Homo sapiens: one gene and its partners. The protein of the gene in region 3 purifies or fractionates together with the protein of the main gene of each other region. This does not show direct contact. Each region holds a gene or a part of one and is shown on either strand. Other genes may lie near its edges.

Region 1 (5,100 bases), on a different chromosome or scaffold from region 3:
ATGTACGAAATCTGAAGTGCTTGTAAGGATTTAGAACAGCACAGACTACCCGGAACAAAGGAGATACAAAACATTTCTTAGCAACCAAAAATAAAAGGGAAATGGGCCACTGAGGCAGATGGGTCTCTCAGATTAAATGCCATATAAATTGCATGTGTGGAACCAAATACAGCAGAAAACCCTCAGTTAATGAGGCATAGCTTGGTAAATTGGGAACTTGATGAGGGTTTTTAACGTAATCTGGTATCACTTAGAATGGCCTTAGTTTCCCATTCTCTCAGCACCTTCACAGAGGCCCACATGCCTCTGACATCAAATCTGTCAAACTTGGGGACAAAGGACATTAACAGTTCTTGAAAGGTGACCTTAGTTAATGATACCCACAGATACTAATTTCATTACTTAAGGAATCTGTGTTCCTCAGAATTTCCAGAATCACAAGTGATACCTGCCAATTACAGTTTAAGTTACTAACGGATATACAACTCTTCAAGGCAGAAACTTAAGTCTCATTATGTTGGTTACATATACTGTTTTTATTTGGGTTTGTTGAATGAGAATAAAAACACCCCAGTTTCTTCTGCAGGTCGAGCCCTTCTCTATAACGGTCATTACAAACAACCCTGAAGTGGCTGGAATATAGTCAGCAAGGGGCCCACATGAACAGCTCATCTGGAATCTTTGCAAGTACGTATTTATGTCCTTTGGTGCCTTGCACAGTAAGGCACTGTTAATGACGTAACAGAATAGAGGAAATGCCCACAGCAAATAGTTCTAGTGACAATTTACTAGACAAGTTACAGTTTAATAATGGTGGTGGTGATTGTTTCTTTCATTTTATTATTATTATTTTTTTACAATAAGGGTGTAGCCTTTATACTCCACACACACAAAATAAAACAAGTGCTTATTACGAAAAGAGTCCCTGCCCCCACCCCCTAGAACATCCTGAACATAGCAATTCAACAGAACAGAAAAATCAAGACGTTTGATTTCAAAATTTCAATAAAAAAGCAAAAGTATGTAATGCAACAGCTGTTCAACTTCCAACTCTAAATAGGCACCATTAAACAAAAAACCCCAGTATTTTAAATTTCTCCAGCACACATTCCAGGATCAATGCTCTGAACTGTAATCAGCTAGTAATTCATAACGGGAATACAGCCTTAGAATGGAAGCTATATTGCTTCCCTGCCCCCTTTCTCTTACAATTGGAGAGTGTAGGTATTAAGGGATACAAAGTCAGAGGAAGAATAATTAAAAAGAAAAATGCCCAAAGCTGCAGCTGTTTGGACTAGGAAGACAGCATTTTACAAACGTTCAAAAAATCCCAAGGCAAGTAACACAATTTGTTCACTAGCACTCTTACTTGAAAGAATAAAGAGATCAGCATCTTATTATATAAAACTGTACTTTCAGAACTGTATTACAGGTTCACCAGAAACTATGGATGTAGTTTTAGGCATCATCAAGGAAAACAGGTTCAGTTCAGATCAAGTTAGATACTGTACATCTAGCCTAGCTGGATCTGGTGTCTGGATCTGCTCACTGTCACCCTGAACAGCTGTGAACTAAACAATAGTACGTAACTCCGTAGGAAGCTTAAGGACTGAAGAAATGTACACAGCTAGTTAGATCTCCCCTGCTTCGCGCTCTTCAGAGCTCCTCCTGTCTTCTGATCTGCCATTAGCACTCTCATAGGACCGCTTCTTATCTTTCCGATCTCTGTCACGAGGTGATCTGTCTCTTGAACTCCTGTCTCTGTCACATGATGCTAAGTCTTGGTCTCTGAATCTTTCTTTTGAGGATCTGAAAAATATTAATTTGAGGAGCAAAATATGTTGGGAAACCCAAAAACCCAAATTAAAGAATAGGATAAATATTAAGCTCTTGATAGCTGAAGATATATAGACGAATATACCCATGACAGAGGAGTCAGTTTTCTGACAAATTACAGAGCACTACCATAGTTGATAAGGGCATTAAAACAAGAAGATGGGTGAAAAACAAATAGCAGAGGGTCAGAAGGCTAAAATAATTTCTTACAGGCTACTCTCATCTCAGAGACAACACAGAGTTTCTCCAATTCATAAAAGGTATTTTAATATAAAAAATAATACATAGATAACAGCTTTAAAAAGTGAAAGAAATGTATTATCTAAATTTTAAATGGCTTAGAATAGGGGCCAGATGGTGACTATCTGGGGTACTGCAGGTCCATGCAATCTTTGTGGCAGTTCTTTTCTTTTTAGAATGTAAAAACCATCCATAGCTTGCTGGTTGTACAGGCTACCGGCCAGATTTGGCCTATCGGCAACAGTTTGCCAACACCTGACTTAGATAAGAGAACTACTCAATTATTAATATGAATTTAAATAACCACTTCTAAAAATCTACTCATACTGAGTTAGCTTATTCAACCAACAAGGGGAAATAAAAAAAGACAAAGATGCTCACACTAATAAATCTTGATTAGCCATAACTGTTTACTACCTTCTCCATTCCCATACCCAACTTCATTATAAGAAAGGTAAATAATAAATCAATCGGAAAACCAAACATATTATGGAATCAGAATAAACATGGAATCTTCCATACTTCCAACATCTAAAATTCAACAAATTACATTTATTTGGTTCTTTACAGGTGACACAGCACTTTTACATAATTATCTCACTCAACCCATATTCAAAATTAGGATCTGAGGCACTACCAAGAACCTGAATAAGTAATACTTTCAGGAAAATAAAAAATATGACTGTTCAGTTTTAGAAATATAGTTAAGGAGGGTTAAACAAAAAATGGTTCTAAAATAATGTCCACTTTGAACATTCTACTTAATGTTTTAATAAACTTAAAATGATATAAAAAGACTGGGCACGGTGACTCACGCCTGTAATCCCAGCACTTTGGGAGGCCAAGGCAGGCAGATCACTTGAGGTCAGGAGTTCAAGACCAGCCTAGCCAACATAGTGAAACCCCCGTCTCTACTTAAAATACAAAAAATTAGCTGAGAGTGGTGGCGTGTGCCTGTAGTCCCAGCTACTCGGGAGGCTGAGGCAGGAGAATCACTTGAACCTGGGAGGCGGAGGCTGCAGTGAGCCCAGATCGCATTACTGCACTCCAGCCTGGGTGACAGAGCAAGACTCCATCTCAACAACAACAAAAAATCACAGTGCCAAGTCTAGTGATTCCACGTCTACACTAGTCCTATCCATAGCCTTTGTTGGAATAAAATATGAAAAGAGATGGTAAAAATGATACCTAAAAAGACACTAGATGCCAAACAGTCCCAGTGATCAGTAATAACTAAAAAACTATGAGTATCAACTACTATGTCCCACACATAGTGGTTTCCATATACTATTTTACTCAAACTACCAATAATCTTAACAAAGCAGGTATTCTTACTTTCTCCACTTAGTAGATGGGGAAAGACAGGTGAGATAGTTATAAATTACTTAGCCAAGGTGGGACGTGGTGGCTCATGCCTGTAATCCCAGCATTTTGGGAGGCCAAGGCAGGTGGATCACCTGAGGTCGGGAGTTTGAGACCAGCCCGGCCAACATGGCGTAACCCTGTCCCTACTAAAAATACAAAAATAGCCAGGTGTGGTGGCCTGGGCCTGTAATCCCAGCTACTTGGGAGGCCGAGGCAAAAGAATCGCTTGAACCCGCAAGGCAGAGGTTGCAACGAGCCGAGATCGCGCCACTGCCCTCCAGCCTGGGTGACAGAACGAGACTCTCGTCTCAAAAAAAAAAATAAATTACTTAGCCTAAACCAATGAACCCAAGTAATCTGACTTTGGAGTCTGCACTAAACATGTTTGAACAGAGCAAAAAGATAGATAGATGCAAATGGTCCTCATTTACGCAGGGCACTATTGCCAGGAAGAGGTCACAAAGAATCTACTTGTATCAGAGACAAGTATTTCACAGTAGGGAAAGGAGAACAGCAAAACATAAAAGGCTTTCAATAAGAACTTTTACCTTGAAAAATTAAACCCAAATATGTAGCAATAACTTGATGTTGTATGAAATACCAAGTAGGTTTTAACAGCAATTATCTGGTAATTTTTAGTATAAAACAAAGAATGATGCTTTAAAAGAGAATAATTTGAATTCAAAGATGAGAAAGTGCTCGAGAAAAGCAAAACTTTTAATAGTTTTACAAAAATAATCCTCTTTATGAACATGCTGACATCTTAGATATGATCATGTATCATGTATGGTGGAAAAATTCCTATACAACTTCATCAACGCAGGAAGCATCAGGGACTAAAATAACACAATCTCAGATTAGGGGACTTCACGCCCATCCTTCCCATACCCATCACCAATAAAGACATTTAGGAGTTCAGCAACAACAATGACAGTTGGGCAGATTTGACACAGGAAAATGTCTAAACCTTCCATCACCTAGCAGGATAATTCTGAAAATTCATTGTGCAGATAAGACAGGTAACTTTTAAAAAATGCTTATTTCTGAACACTGCACTGAGGGTAGACCCCCAAAATCAGTTTCAAGAGTGTGAGATAAGAGGCCTACAAATCACTCTGTCCTTTACAAACTCCCTCCTCATTCTCTGCATTTGCCTAGGATATTCACTCTATATGGAATATCTTTTTCCTAGCTGATTCTACCTGTTCAAATTTTACCGACTACCTGAAGCCATTTTTGATTACTCTGTTATTTGCCTCATCTAAACTCTCGGATCATTTATTCTATGATATGCAGTTTAGCACTTTATAACATGTGGTAGTCTTATGCCAGTCTAATTATTGTCAAAGATGTCAATCCTTTGTTCTAACTCACATAGGAGACTTTTTGTTTTTTTTTTTGTTTGTTTTTTTTTGTTTTGAGAGCTGGAGTCTCGCTCTGTCACCCAGGCTGGAGTGCAGTGGTGCGATCTTGGCTCACTGCAACCTCCACCTTTGTGTTCAAGCAATTCTCCTTCCTCAGCCTCCTGAGTAGCTGGGATTACAGGCATGTGCCACCATGCCCGGCTAATGTTTGTATTTTAGTAGAGATGGGGTTGGTTGGCCAGGCTGGTCTTGAACTCCTGATCTCAAGTGATACGCCCATCTCGGTCTCCCAAAG
Region 2 (7,039 bases), on a different chromosome or scaffold from region 3:
GGTCACATTATTTTCTGCTTTTTGGCATATCTAGTAATTTATGATTGGATGCCAAGCATTGTGAGTTTCTGAGCATTTGGATTGTATTGTCTTCCTTTAAAGTTTGTTTTGGCTGACAGTAAGTTATATACTTGCTATCAGCTTGTGTTTTTTTTTTTTAAGCCTTATTAGGGTGTGTCTAAAATACTTCTACTCTAACACTAGTTTACTTTTTTTTTTTCTTTTGTGAGACAGGATCTTGCTGTCACCCAGGCTAGAGTGCAGTGGCACAATCATGGCTACTGCAGCCTTGAACTCCTGGGTTTAAGCAATCCTCCTGTCTCACTCTCCTGAGTAGCTGAACCACAGGTGCATACCACCATGCTAGGCTAATTTTTAAATTTTAGGGTCTCCCTTTGTTGCCCTGGCTAGTTTATCTTTTTTTTTTTTTTTTTTTTTTTGAGACAGAGTTTTTGCTCTTGTCACCCAGGCTGGAGTGCAATGGCGCAATCTCGGCTCACCGCAACCTCCACCTCCTGAGTTCAAGCGATTCTCCTGCCTCAGCCTCCCAAGTAGCTGGGATTACAGGCATGCACCTCCACTCCTGACTAATTTTGTATTTTTTTTAGTAGAGACGGGGTTTCTCCATGTTGGTCAGACTGGTCTGGAACCCCCGACCTCAGGTGATGCGCCCGCCTTGGCCTCCCAAAGTACTAGGATTACAGGTGTGAGCCACCACACCCAGCCTAGTTTATCTTTAATATCAAGACATGTTCATCTAGGGTCTCTACTGTTTGAGTATTCACTCAGGTCTCTCTACCCTGTCTGGACAGAGTTAGCCTCCCAGGTATTCCTGTACCACTTATTCTTCAAGGCCAGGATCTGATATCTCAGTGGAATATTCTGATACAGAACATGTGATACATCTGATATTCTGAAACATCTGAAACAATGTATGAGAAACAGCTTTCATTAAAAACTACAAGTACCCATACAACCTTTCTGTTTCTCACTTTCAGTACGGTGTTCAATAAATTGCATGAGATTATTCTACACTTTATTGTAAAATAGATTTTGTGTTAGATGATTTGGCCCAACTGTAGGCTGATGTAAGTGTTCTAAGCATAAGTAAGGTAGCCCAGGCTGAGCTAGGAGAATCGCTTGAACCCGGAAGGCAGAGGTTGCAGTGAGCTGAGACTGTGCCATTGCACTTCAGCCTGGGTGACAGAGAGACTCCATCTCAAAACAAAAAACAAAAAACAGTGGCTTTATTGGGATGTAACTCCATCATTAGTCAAGGAGCATCTGTGTATATCTTTTGATACCACACTATGGTATTTGATCCTCACCACGACCAGTTAAGTGGGTAGTATAATCTTCATTTTATAGGGAAAGGTAGCAAGGCCCAGGGAAGTTGGTTTTGTGACATGTTCTTAAGTGGCAGAGCTGGGTCTTGAGCCCAGATCTTCTGGTTTCGTTAGTCATGCCCTTTAAGCTCCTTGAGAACAGAGAGAACAGTTTTTCACAGAGTGTTTTCTCAATTATGTGGCTCACATTGAACATATCTCAAATCAGGAAGATATATCTTCACATAGAAATATATGGGATCATTTGTTTTTCTTTCAGAAAAGCTGTCATTGAATCAGTTGTAGTGCCTCTGAAATCACTGTTGTAGAATCAAGGAAATATATAGATCTCTCTCCAGTGCCTAATAGAGCCTTTATACATAATATATGCCTGGTAAATGTTTGTATGCTAAGTTCAAGAATAAGCTGATTTTATAAAGCAAAATGTGCTTCTAAAAGTTGTATGCCTGTGCTTGTCTCTGCAGGTATTTTATGCATGGTGTGTGTCGGGAAGGAAGTCAGTGCCTATTCTCACATGACTTGGCAAACAGCAAACCGTCCACCATCTGCAAGTACTACCAGAAGGGCTACTGTGCCTATGGAACTCGGTGCAGGCAAGGACTCTGCAACAGATTCCAGCTGTGACACTGATTTCATTTGGAGAATGGGTCTTGATAAGGGGGAAATTTTAATGTAAAAGTAATATGGCAACATCACAAAAAGTATGGCAAATAAGTTTAAAACCTCAGTTTCAGTACCCTAAAACTAATTTTCTTTTCTTTTTTTTTTTGAGATAGAGTCTCTCACTGTTGCCCAGGCTGGAGGGCAGTGGTGCGATCTCAGTTCTCTGCAACCTCCGCCTCCAGGGTTCTCCTGCCTCAGCCTCCCAAGTAGCTGAGATTACAGGCATCTGCCACTACGCCTGGCTGATTTTTTTTTTTTTTGTATTTTTAGTAGAGATGGGGTTTCACCATGTTGGTCAGGCTGGTCTCTAACTCCTGACCTCGTGATCCTCCCGCCTCAGCTTCCCAAAGTGCTGGAATTACAGGCGTGAGCCACCGTGCCTGGCCTAATTTTCATTTTTTAAAACTACTTTTCAGCCTTATTCTTATGAATATATAGTTATAAAATTGTACACAATTCCGGAAACTTGTTCATGCTTTTGTAGCAAAGAGCCGATCTTTTCTTTCTAGACTGCAAAGCTTCCTTCCCTCCTTTTTCTCTGCAGTGCAGTGGGAGATGATGGAAGTAGGCCCACGTTGGTCTTCCCCTGTCAATGAGTGCCAAGAGAGACAGTCAGGGAGAGATCATTGGCCCTTGTCAGCATTTTGGGGACTCCTGCTCAAAAGAATACTGGGTCAGTCAGGCATCAGGAGATTTTAGCTCAACATCTGTTTGGAACTTTCAGGTTCTCTGTGTGGTCTGGTGCTGTGTGTCTGTCCCACTCAAGTCCCACAGAGACACTTAAGCATAGGTGATAGATAGCAAATGTCCCCCTCACAATGAATTGCCAAGCATCTGTTAATAATCGATAATCCTGTTAGAGTTTAAATATTGGAAAAGATGGCCGCCTTCTTCACCTCAACAAGTGCAGCAGAAGGAGGGCCATTGGCATCTGGGGAGTGTGGGAGATGTGTGTGGGTGGCATGTCTGTAATGCATCTGCTGTGTGTTTTGTTTAGATATGACCACACGAGGCCCTCTGCTGCAGCTGGAGGTGCTGTGGGCACCATGGCCCACAGTGTGCCCTCCCCAGCTTTCCACAGTCCTCACCCTCCTTCCGAGGTCACTGCATCCATTGTGAAAACTAACTCACATGAACCCGGAAAGCGTGAAAAGAGAACATTGGTTCTTAGAGACCGAAGTGAGTAAGCGGAAGCCTTTTGTTGCGTCTTTTTGCATAGCACTCTTGTTAATGCTTGGTGCTCCTTTCTAGCCTCCTCTTGTCAAGAGGACTCCTAACCTAATACACCTCCAGATTGTCTGCGCGGAGAGACTTCAGAACTGTTCTGAAGAGGCTCCATGTGGCTGCAGATCATTCAAATGATACATTCGCCCTCGTGCCCAAGGCTGGGTTGAGCTCCAAGACTGGCCTGGTAAAACATAAAAACACAATCTTTTTGTCAACATGTAACTTCCATCTTCATATGGTGGTTGTCCAGCTGGTGAGAAGCATCAAGCTCTTCATTTCAAACGTAAATATTTTGTCTGGGTAAAGTGGCTCACACCTATAACCCCAACACTTTGGGAGGCTGAGGCGGGTGGATCACCTGAGGTCAGGAGTTCGAGACCAGCCTGGCCAACATGGTTTAGTAGAAACCCTGTCTCTACTAAAAATACAAAAATTAGCCGGGTGTAGTGGCAGGTGTCTGTAATCCCAGCTACTTGGGAGGCTGAGGCAGGAGAATTTCTTGAACCCGGGAGGCAAAGATTGTAGTGAGCTGAGATCACGCCACTGCACTCCAGCCTGGATGACAAGAGTGAGACTCCCTCTCAAAAAAAAAAAAAAAAAAAAGAAAACTAAATATTTTGCTAAAGAGCATGTTTCACTGTTTGACTTTTAGGCCAGTGAATGGTCTTAGTTTTTATGCTGACAGTGTTTGACAGTTTAGATTGCACCTTTGGGAAAAGAATAGCACACTAGGGTTTGGGGCATGGTCTGTGCCTTAAAACAGGGTTTGATGAGGAAGAAAGCTACAAATTGTAAAAGTTTTTTTGTTGTGTTTTTTGTTTGTTTTGTTTTTGTTTTTTTTTTGGAGATGGAGACTCGCTCTGTCGCCTAGGCTGCAGTGCAGTGGCATGATCTCCACCTCCCGGGTTCAAGGGATTCTCTTGCCTCAGCCTTCTGAGTAGCTGGGAATACAGGTGCCCACCACCATGCCCAGCTAATTTTTGTATTTTTAGTAGAGACAGTGTTTCACTATGTTGGCCAGGCTGGTCTCAAACTCTTGGTCTCATGATCCGCCCGCCTCGGCCTCCCAAAGTGCTGGGATTACAGGCAAGAGCCACTGCACCTGGCCATAAAAGTTGTTTTTATTGGCTGGTCCTCACCAGGTGAAGAGATTTCTAGTTCTTGGAATTGGCTACCATGAGGTAGGCAGATTCTGTCCTCAGCAAATGAGTAATCCTGTGAGAATACGTGACCTCTAAACAAGCTCGGAGGTGTGCAGTGGGAAGGCAGCAGCTCCTGGCGTGAGAAGGGGTGACCATGGGGCAGTTTACACTGGCCTCAGGACCCACAGATTTGCTCTAGACATCTATTCTAGTTCACTTAAAATGATTTTACCTTTGCTGGTATGAAGGAAACACTGTGTTCTAGTGCTCTCACTGTTTTTTTGTTTGTTTTAGTGTTAACTGGTCCATGTGTTAACATTTCCATATTTGCCATTTTAAACGGCTTTAGTGTTCTTTTGTATAAGTATATCCTATTGTTTTGCTATTTCCCTGTCTTGCCATTTTTGTTTTTTGTTTTTTGTTTTTTTAAGTAATTATAAGTAATGTCACTATGAACATTTTATACTATTCCTTTTATTTTTCCCCTTCGGTGTGTTTTTTTTGCCATATGTTCTCAAGAGTGGAATTCTTAGGTCAGAGTAGCTTAATATGTTAGGCTTTGGCTAACGGCATACCAGAAAAATGGGGCCATTTTCATGTGCATGTGTGCTGTGTGTTGTTTTCAGATCTCTCTGGCATGGCTGAAAGGAAGACCCAGCCGAGCATGGTGAGTAATCCAGGCAGCTGCAGCGACCCCCAGCCCAGCCCCGAGATGAAGCCGCATTCCTACCTGGATGCCATCAGGAGTGGCCTTGATGACGTGGAGGCCAGCAGCTCCTACAGCAACGAGCAGCAGCTGTGCCCCTACGCAGCTGCTGGGGAGTGCCGGTTTGGGGATGCCTGTGTCTACCTGCACGGGGAGGTGTGTGAAATCTGTAGGCTGCAAGTCTTGCACCCATTCGACCCAGAGCAGAGGAAGGCTCATGAAAAGGTAAAGTCACAAACCTTTGCATGAACTCATGTTAAGAAATCTGAAATGTACTGAACAGGACACGGAAGGCCATCCATATACACTCAAGAAATCTGAAATGTACTAAGTGACAGAATTGTTGGTATTTCCACAGGCATCCCCCTGCCAGTAATACCCATATTATGTATCTGGTATATTTACATCCTGTTTTCAGGTTCTTTTTCCTGCAGTCATTTTGCCATTTTTTTTTTTTAATGGAGTCTCCCTCTCACCCAGGCTGGAGTACAGTGGTGCAATCTCGGCTCACTGCAACCTCTGCTTCCCTGGCTCAGGTGATCCTCCTGCCTCAGCCCCACCGAGTAGCTGGGATTACAGGCGCCCACCACCACACCCGGCTACTTTTTGTATTTTTAGGAAAGATGGGGTTTCACCACGTTGGCCAGGCTGGTCTCGAACTCCTGACCTCAAGTTGTCCGCCTGCCTTGGCCTCCCAAAGTGCTGGGATTACAGGCATGAGCCACCATGCCCGGCCTATTTTGCCAATTTTTAATTACTCAGAATAAAGAGAAAAAGAAGTCGTATCTGAAATATAAAATCATGCTAAGTTCAAAGAACAGATCTAGCTCAGGACCATGGTATGTCGTCTGTGTGTATGTCTCTATCACATGCAGATACAGCATCCTCCCTCCCTGGGTTCACACTTCCTCATGGTTGGGATCCAGCTAGGTGAAGTTTTGGAAGATTTGAGCCCAAATCATAGAATCTGAGGAGCCACTTGTTGGAAGGGCCTTTTAAAGTCATTAATGTCTGCAGTGTTTTGGGAGGCTTTGCCTTATGCTAGGCCCTATGCATGATGCAGAGGGTACGAAGCTGGATAAGAGGCGGGGGAGGGCCAGGCATGGTGACTCACACCTGTAATCCCAGCACTTTGGCAGGCCAAGGCAGGCAGATTGCTTGACCCCAGGAGTTTGAGACCAGCCTGGGCAACATGGTAAGATCCCCGTCTCTACAAAAAAAAAAAAATACAAACATTAGCCAGGTGTGGTGGTGCACACCTGTAGTCCCAGCTACTCGGCAGGACTGAGGTGGGAGGATCACCCGAGCCTGGGAAGCAGAGGTTGCAGTGAGCCAAGATTGTGCCACTGCACTACAGCCTGGGCAATAAGAGTGAGACCCTGTCTCAAGAAAAATAATAATAAAAAAATTTAAAAATGCCAGGTGTGGTGGCTTGGCTAACTTTTAAAATTTTATTTTATTTTGGCTGGGCACAGTGGCTCACGCCTGTAATCCCAGCACTTTGGGAGGACGAGGCAGGCGGATCACAAGGTCAGGAGATTGAGACCATCCTGGCTAACATGGTGAAACCCCGTCTCTACTAAAAATACAAAAAGTTAACTGGGTGTGGTGGCGGGCGCCTGTAGTCCCAGCTACTTGGGAGGCTGAGGCAGGAGAATAGTCTGAACCCAGGAGGTGGAGCTTGCAGCGAGCTGAGATTGCACCACCGCACTCCAGCCTGGACGACAGAGAGAGACTCTGTCTCAAAAAAAAAAAAAAATTATTTTATTTTTCAGAGGTGAGGTCTTGCTATGTTGCTTAGGCTGGTCTTGAACTCCTGAGATCAAGCAGTCCTCTTACCATGGCCTCCCAGAGTAATGGGATTACAGGTGTGAGCCACTGCACCTGGCCTAAGGCATGTTTAAATGGACAGCGTATTCCTAGATAATCAAGAGGTAAATTAGTACTGACTCCAT
Region 3 (7,039 bases):
GCTTGTTCCTTTACTGCTGACTTCAGATGTTCCTCCTTGCTAAGCTTTTCGTTGGTTCTTGGCTGGAGTGGGCTGTTCTGTATTCTCAGCACCTTGTTCACATCCCTTTTGGGTCATGCTATTCTGAAATTGTATATGTGTCTGTTTTTCTTTTTTTCTTTGTGTATCTAGCTCAGTTCTCTTAGTTGTTCAGTAAATACTCAGTGAATGAACATAAATGAATACCCTGTAAATTTTGGTCTCTAAGCTTTAAAAGAAGTGTATTAACTTCAGTCCGTTGATGGCGTATTGATAGGTCAGCCATTCTGGGTTGTAGGTCTTGGCATATTTTATAAAATAGTAGATGATGTGAGCTTATGGTTATTTGCATTAAAGGCCAGTGTTTTTCTTGATACATATGTTTAAGTGTCCATTCACCTTTCAGTTACCTTTTAAAGTAGTCCTCGGTTTATAACCAACTGGAAATTATACCACTTGAATTCTTTTTATCAGGACATGATTCTAAGTGGTACTGTGCGAAGTGAACAAACCAGATTTTGGAAAAGTGGTTCAGCAGTCTGTGTATTCTAATTATAGGGAGCATTAGGACTCAAATTCTCCAGGTTTTTAGAAAAGATTTTTGTACTTTAAGGGTATATTGTTAATATCTGTTGAGATGCCTCACCTGAGAACCTTTCTCTGCTGTGGTTAGGGAGTGTTAATCAGAATCACTTGTGCCGTGCCCTACGCGAGAAGGACTCCTTGAGTTCTTTGAAAACATGTTTGGAATAGAATTATAGCCCTGTTTTCCTGAGTGGAACCAGTTGTGATTTTCCTTTGAAATAATTTGAATATATAAAAGATTGACATTCTTCTCACATATATAATGTTGGGAATGTAAGGTATATTCAAAAGTAAACATTTGTGGCCAATTTTTTTGGCTCAGATTACTATGACATGGAATCCATGGTCCATGCAGACACAAGATCATTTATTCTGAAGAAGCCAAAGCTGTCTGAGGAAGTAGTAGTGGCACCAAACCAAGAGTCGGGGATGAAGACTGCAGATTCCCTTCGGGTACTTTCAGGACACCTTATGCAGACACGGTAGATGGTTTCTTTTTCTTGTGTAGTTAATTTGTGTGATTAGATAGTAAAGGTTAACCATTCGTTTGCAGCTTCCCTCCTCCCCGCCCTAACCGCTAGCGTAGAGTGCTTTCATTGATTCAGTAGCTAGCCCATGAATAGTTAGCCAAATTCAGTTTTCAAGAATTCCAGTTCATCTTTCTTGTTCAGAAATCCATTAACCTACAAATTACAACTCAGTGTATGATTTAACTCTATTAAAGATTCTTTTCTTTATGCAAATTCAGGAAATGCAAGTTTAAAAGCCAGCTGACCATAATCAGGTCAGCTCTAAAGAGAGTTGGCAGATCAGGTTTGGGTGATTTTTCCCTTAGAAAATTGACTGTTTCTATAAAAGAAGAAACATACAGATAATTAGCATAAATGCTGCTGGCCCTTGTGTTCTGAGCATTGATGCTAATTTTTTGGTTTGTTTCCATGTTGACCCTATGAAGATCGAATGGGTGATGGGGTCAGGCTTGAGGGGAGATTGTCCTTAGTAAGTACAGGCTGGAGGGTCACTGGTGATGCCACTGTGACTGTTCATGGCCATCGTGTGTTAGCAGAGAACCCACCAGTGCTGCACCTGGTAGCCCTACCTAGTCTTTTTTTATTGAACCAAACGCAAAGCCAAGGGAGTGATAGTTCTGCTGAAGAGCACTTTAGGGGGCTCAGCGTTTTGTGTTTGTTTCCCTAATTCTATGGTATTTTTTATCTGTCTGGCAGAGATCTTGTACAACCAGATAAACCTGCAAGTCCCAAGTTTATAGTGACGCTGGATGGTGTCCCCAGCCCCCCAGGATACATGTCAGATCAAGAGGAGGACATGTGCTTTGAAGGAATGAAACCCGTAAACCAAACTGCAGCCTCAAACAAGGGACTCAGAGGTCTCCTCCACCCACAGCAGTTGCACTTGCTGAGCAGGCAGCTTGAGGACCCAAATGGTAGCTTTTCTAACGGTGTGTTGAGAGCTCAGATTTTCAGGGTGCTGTCATTGTGAAGGGAATCTTTGACTTGTTTCTCTACCTTGAATGAATATTGGTTAAAGGCCTTGCTTTTATTTATATTCAGTAATGGCCTTTTTTCTTCTTTCAGACAAACCCACCAAGTACATTTCAGACTCTTTTTCCTGTGTCTTTTTCATAGGTGGGCTGTTACTCCAGTTTGAAAACGGAGTTCAGCCATGGAACCTGAGAGACCTCTTCCGCTTATGCTGGCTAAAGGATGAACCACCATTCTTGTTGCCTTCTTTACCTTTGTATTTTCTTCAGAAACTGTACTGCCACTTTGCCCTTTTATCAGCAATAGTCTCTTGCAATTAACTTGAGAGAAAAATTTAGATTTGATGCTATTTCTACCTCAGTGAAATTTCTTTGAAAGGAGTTTCTCACCTAATCTATCAAGATCTTGGAACTGTTTAAATTAATGTTGAAGAGTAATATTTAGCAGAACTCAGATGAACTCATTTCAGATAGCACCATAGTTTTTGGCAGGTGACAGTTTCTTATCACCGTTTCTTTCACTGGGTATCAGTGGTAGCTGCAACGCCACTGATCATTTCCATTCATGATAGAGAATGGTAATTATGTTCCTTATATCTTCTAAAATATTTAGAAGCACCTCTTCATTGGCAGGAGGGATAATTACTCAATCTTAAAAGCGTACAGATTCAAAGGAAAAACAGTAATGGATTTTGAAACATTTCCTTGAGTAATCCTCTTCTTGGAAGAGATATGAAAATGTATTGAATACCTTTCTCGATCATTAAAAATAGAATAGACTTCAGAGGGAAATCATATGTTAGTGGAGCAATAACACTTAGCTTTATTTTAATTGGTTGCGTTTCCTACTGTGAATCAATGACGTAGTGTCGTGGTTTTGATTAGTGGAGGGAGTTGAAAATCTGACCCTATCAACAGGAAGAAAAACTTAAAAAATAGTAAAAGCTGCAGTAGGCAGTCCCGATTTATTGACTCTGTATGTTTTGTCTAAAGAGAAGACTCCAGTGTTTTCACTACTCTTGATTTTCAATTTGGTACCTTAATTTTTTGGTCTATTAGGATCTGGTTTCATTTAAATGTAGGTGTCCATATGAGGCTTTATGGGGTATACATGTAGCAGCAGTGACACCATAAATAATATGTTAGTAAAAATTCTTGCCAGTGCTGTGGCCATTGTGCTGACAGCCATGATGAGTGGTGAGCCTCCTTTCCCATTGCTTTGACTGGGGACTCAGTGTTTCCCTGCTGCTCAAGGATGAAGCTTTGTAAGATTAGCATAGGGGTGTGGCTGGAGAGACTCCTGCAGAACAGTTCTCAGGAGTCTCTAGTCTCTGCACCACTTCCCCTGTGAGCAGGGAGTTTGAAACTGCAATTGCTTCTGGTTGGTTTTATGTTGGGTTGTTTCAAGGATGCTACCAACAACAACATCTGTTTTAACCTGCTGTCTTTTCACTCACTGTCATATGGCAGCACAGATTTTATAGCTTGCTTTCTTTGTTTTTTTTTTTTTTGAGATAGAGTCTCTCTGTCCCCCAGGCTGGAGTGCAATGGAGCCATCTCAGCTCACTGCAACTTCTGCCTTCCAGGTTGAAAGCCATTCTTCTGCCTCAGTCTCCCAAGTAGCTGGGATTACAGGCATGCACCATCACACCTGGCTAATTTTGTAGTTTAAGTAGAGACGGGGTTTTACCATGTTGGTCAGGCTAATCTCCAACTCCTGACCTCAAGTGATCCACCAACCTCGGCCTCCCAAAGTTCTGGGATTACAGGTGTGAGCCACCGTGCCTGGCCTATAGCTTTCAATAAAAGGTGAATTTGCCTCTTAAAATTTGAACAGAAAGTTTTAATAGTTTACAAAGTCGGTGTCAGCCAGTGAAGACTAGGGGCATGACCTTCGTATGACTTAATGTTTTTAAAAGAAAGATAAAGTTTCTTTGTAAGGTATTATTGTAATAATCACATTTCTTTGTAAAGTATTATATTGTTCCTGAGTATCTAGCTACTTTGCTTTCCAGCTAGGCTTCTCTTGGGTATTCTCTTAATCTTTTATTTGTACTGGGTTCTTGTGTATATATTATAGTCTGCTGTGTGTAATTTATTATAGGAAAAGGGTAAGACACATTTACTTTGCGGGGATGACACAAAAAACCTGTAAAAATTAGAGAAACTTCCAGTCATCTCACATTTTCTTTGGAACCGATTATTCTTGTATCTTAGAACTAAAATGACTTATACTGTTTTGTTTTTAGAAAGGGTATCCCTCCTGTTGCCCAGGCTGGAGTGCATTGGCACAGTCATGGCTCACTGCAGCCTCCACCTCCCAGGCTCAAGTGATTCTCCCACCTCAGCCTCCTGAGTAGTTGGTTACTACAGGTGCACACCACCATGCCTGGCTAATTTTTTGTATTTTTTGTAGAGATGGGGTTTCACCATGTTGCCCAGGCTGGTCTGAAACTCCTGAGCTCAAGTGATCTGCCCGCCTCGGCCTCCCAAAGTGCTGGGGTTACAGGCATGAGCCACCACATCCTATTTAAAGCTTAAATAGGACTTTTACTATTTTTAAAGTAGCATAGAAAACTGTTTGTATCAGGCATAGTCATAATTGCTCTTTGATGCTGCTCCTATCTGGGCTGCATGACTACATTTGTGTGCCTTGTTCTCCTGTAGTGAGGACAGAATGTGGGTCACTGGAACAGTAAGTACTCATAGAACTAGCTGCTGCTGCTATTACGACTGGTTGCCTGTTTTGCATTTTTTCCGTTTAATCATCAGACTCTAAGGAAGACATTATTTTCTCTTTGTATAGATGAGGAAACAGAATTCCAAAAAGTTAGCTAACATTTGCACAGAGTGTCTGGCTGAGCAACTAAGTGGCAGAGTCAGATTTTAACTGACCTCTGGCAAGAGGACTAGAGGAATACAGTTGAAGTGATACTTGCTTTCATGAACATGAATGTGAACCATAATACATAATACCCATGATGCTATTTTGTGGGGAGTTTAAGGTGTCTCAGTCCAGAAATTAGCAGCTGATTATTGCCTGTAGCTGTAATTTTACTTATTCAGTGTTATTTAATAAATTGCCAGCATTACAATTTCGATGAAGGCAGATTTTTGGCTTACTGAAACAGGATAAAAATCTGGCAACAGGGGTCCCACTTTGCCCTGTCATAGTAATCGAAGCTGTGATTGGATGTGGCACAGGGAGTGGAGTGGATGGGTGTGCACTTGCTTTCCAGGCTGCTGCTCCCCGTCTGTCCCTTATTGCATTTATCATCTTCAGCCCAGTCAGTCTTGCTGTTAGGGGAACTGCCCAGTCTCTGTAAGTGATGGCATTTGTGACCCCATTGTAGGTAAAAATGTTTTCCCCTTTTTAGACATTGCTGGCTGAGCGCGGTGGCTCATGCCTATAATCCCAGCACTTTGGGAGGCCGAGGTGGGTGGATCGCTTAAGTCCTGGAGTTCAAGACCAGCCTGGGCAACGTGGGGAAACCCTGTAGCCAGGCGTGGTGGCACGTGCTACTTGGTAGGGGCTGAGGTGGGAGTATCACTTGAGCCTGGGAGGCAGAGGTTGCAGTGAGCCGAGATTACACCACTGGCACACCACTGTACTCCATCCTGGGTGACAGAGCAGGACCCTGTCGTAAAAAAAAAAAAAAAAAAAAAAAGTAAAAGACATTGCTGAGTTTCGCACCTGGACTTACAGCTCAGCAGGTGGGAATCCTTTTGTATTTGGGCCACTCATCATCTTGCTGGCGTGTGAGGATTCACATCTCCTTATCACCTTACCTGTTTTCAGTTTTTATTTAATTTTATTAGTTCCCCACTTGACGTCCTTCTCTATTTTTAATTCAGCTATGAATTAGTATTGAGAATTAGAATTTTTGGTGAAAAATTTGGCCGTAGTTGCAGAGTCACTGTCCTCTTTCCTTTTCACAGTGAGAACTGTTGTCTTCTTCCTGGCAACCTTTTATAGGATTCTATGGCCAGTGTTAATCCCATAATTTGAGCTCACTTATTTTATATGACTGTACATTTAACAGAAGATTCTAAGACAGGTTTGAGGGAAATATGTTAAAGGTGCTGTGTACTGAATTGATCATAATGAATGAAATACTTTTATTTCCTTTCCCTTTGTAGCTGAGATGAGTGAACTGAGTGTGGCACAGAAACCAGAAAAACTTTTGGAGCGCTGCAAGTACTGGCCTGCTTGTAAAAATGGGGATGAGTGTGCCTACCATCACCCCATCTCACCCTGCAAGTGAGTACCATCCCCCCATCTCACCCTGCAAGTGAGTACCATCCCCCCATCTCACCCTGCAAGTACCATCCCCCATCTCACCTGGCAAGTACCATCCCATCTCACCCAGCAAGTACCATCCCCCACATCTCAACCCTCAAGTGAGTACCATCCCATCTCACCCTGCAAGTACCATCCCATTTCACCCTGCAAGTACCATCCCCCATCTCACCCTGCAAGTACCATCTCCCCATCTCACCCTGTAACTACCATCCCATCTCACCCTGCAAGTGAGTACCATCCCTGCATTTCACCCTGCAAGTACCATCTCATCTCACCCTGCAAGTACCACCCCCTCATCTCACCCTGCAAGTATCATCCCCCATCTAGCCCTGTAAGTGCGAGTACCATCCCCCATCTTACCCTGCAAGTACCATCACCCACTTCACCCTGCAAGTACCATCCCCCACCTCAGCCTGCAAGTACCATCCCCCACCTCAGCCTGCAAGTACCATCCCCTATCTCACCCTGCAAGTACCATCCCCATCTCACCCTGCAAGTATCATCCCCCACCTCACCCTGCAAGTACCATCCCCCATCTCACCCTGCAATTGAGTACCATCCCCCATCTCACCCTGCAAGTACCATCCCCCATCTCACCCTGCAAGTGAGTACCATCCCCCATCTCACCTTGC

What was found.
Region 1: the proteins of ZC3H14 (region 3) and LUC7L2 purify together in Homo sapiens (affinity purification with mass spectrometry; 3 studies listed by BioGRID and IntAct, with this or other methods). This does not show direct contact.
Region 2: the proteins of ZC3H14 (region 3) and MKRN2 purify together in Homo sapiens (affinity purification with mass spectrometry; 2 studies listed by BioGRID and IntAct, with this or other methods). This does not show direct contact.

Annotation. Positions count from the first base shown.
Region 1 is NC_000007.14:139,418,872-139,423,971, reverse strand, and holds the end of LUC7L2 (putative RNA-binding protein Luc7-like 2), read right to left. Parts: intron 1,810-5,100; coding exon 1,632-1,809; 3' UTR 518-1,631; downstream 1-517. Other genes in the region: FMC1-LUC7L2 readthrough protein, read right to left, coding at 1,632-1,809. UniProt on the Homo sapiens protein: May bind to RNA via its Arg/Ser-rich domain.
Region 2 is NC_000003.12:12,567,065-12,574,103, forward strand, and holds part of MKRN2 (E3 ubiquitin-protein ligase makorin-2), read left to right. Parts: intron 1-1,810; coding exon 1,811-1,939; intron 1,940-3,006; coding exon 3,007-3,188; intron 3,189-5,004; coding exon 5,005-5,309; intron 5,310-7,039. UniProt on the Homo sapiens protein: E3 ubiquitin ligase catalyzing the covalent attachment of ubiquitin moieties onto substrate proteins.
Region 3 is NC_000014.9:88,600,999-88,608,037, forward strand, and holds part of ZC3H14 (zinc finger CCCH domain-containing protein 14), read left to right. Parts: intron 1-925; coding exon 926-1,085; intron 1,086-1,829; coding exon 1,830-2,062; intron 2,063-6,244; coding exon 6,245-6,365; intron 6,366-7,039. UniProt on the Homo sapiens protein: RNA-binding protein involved in the biogenesis of circular RNAs (circRNAs), which are produced by back-splicing circularization of pre-mRNAs.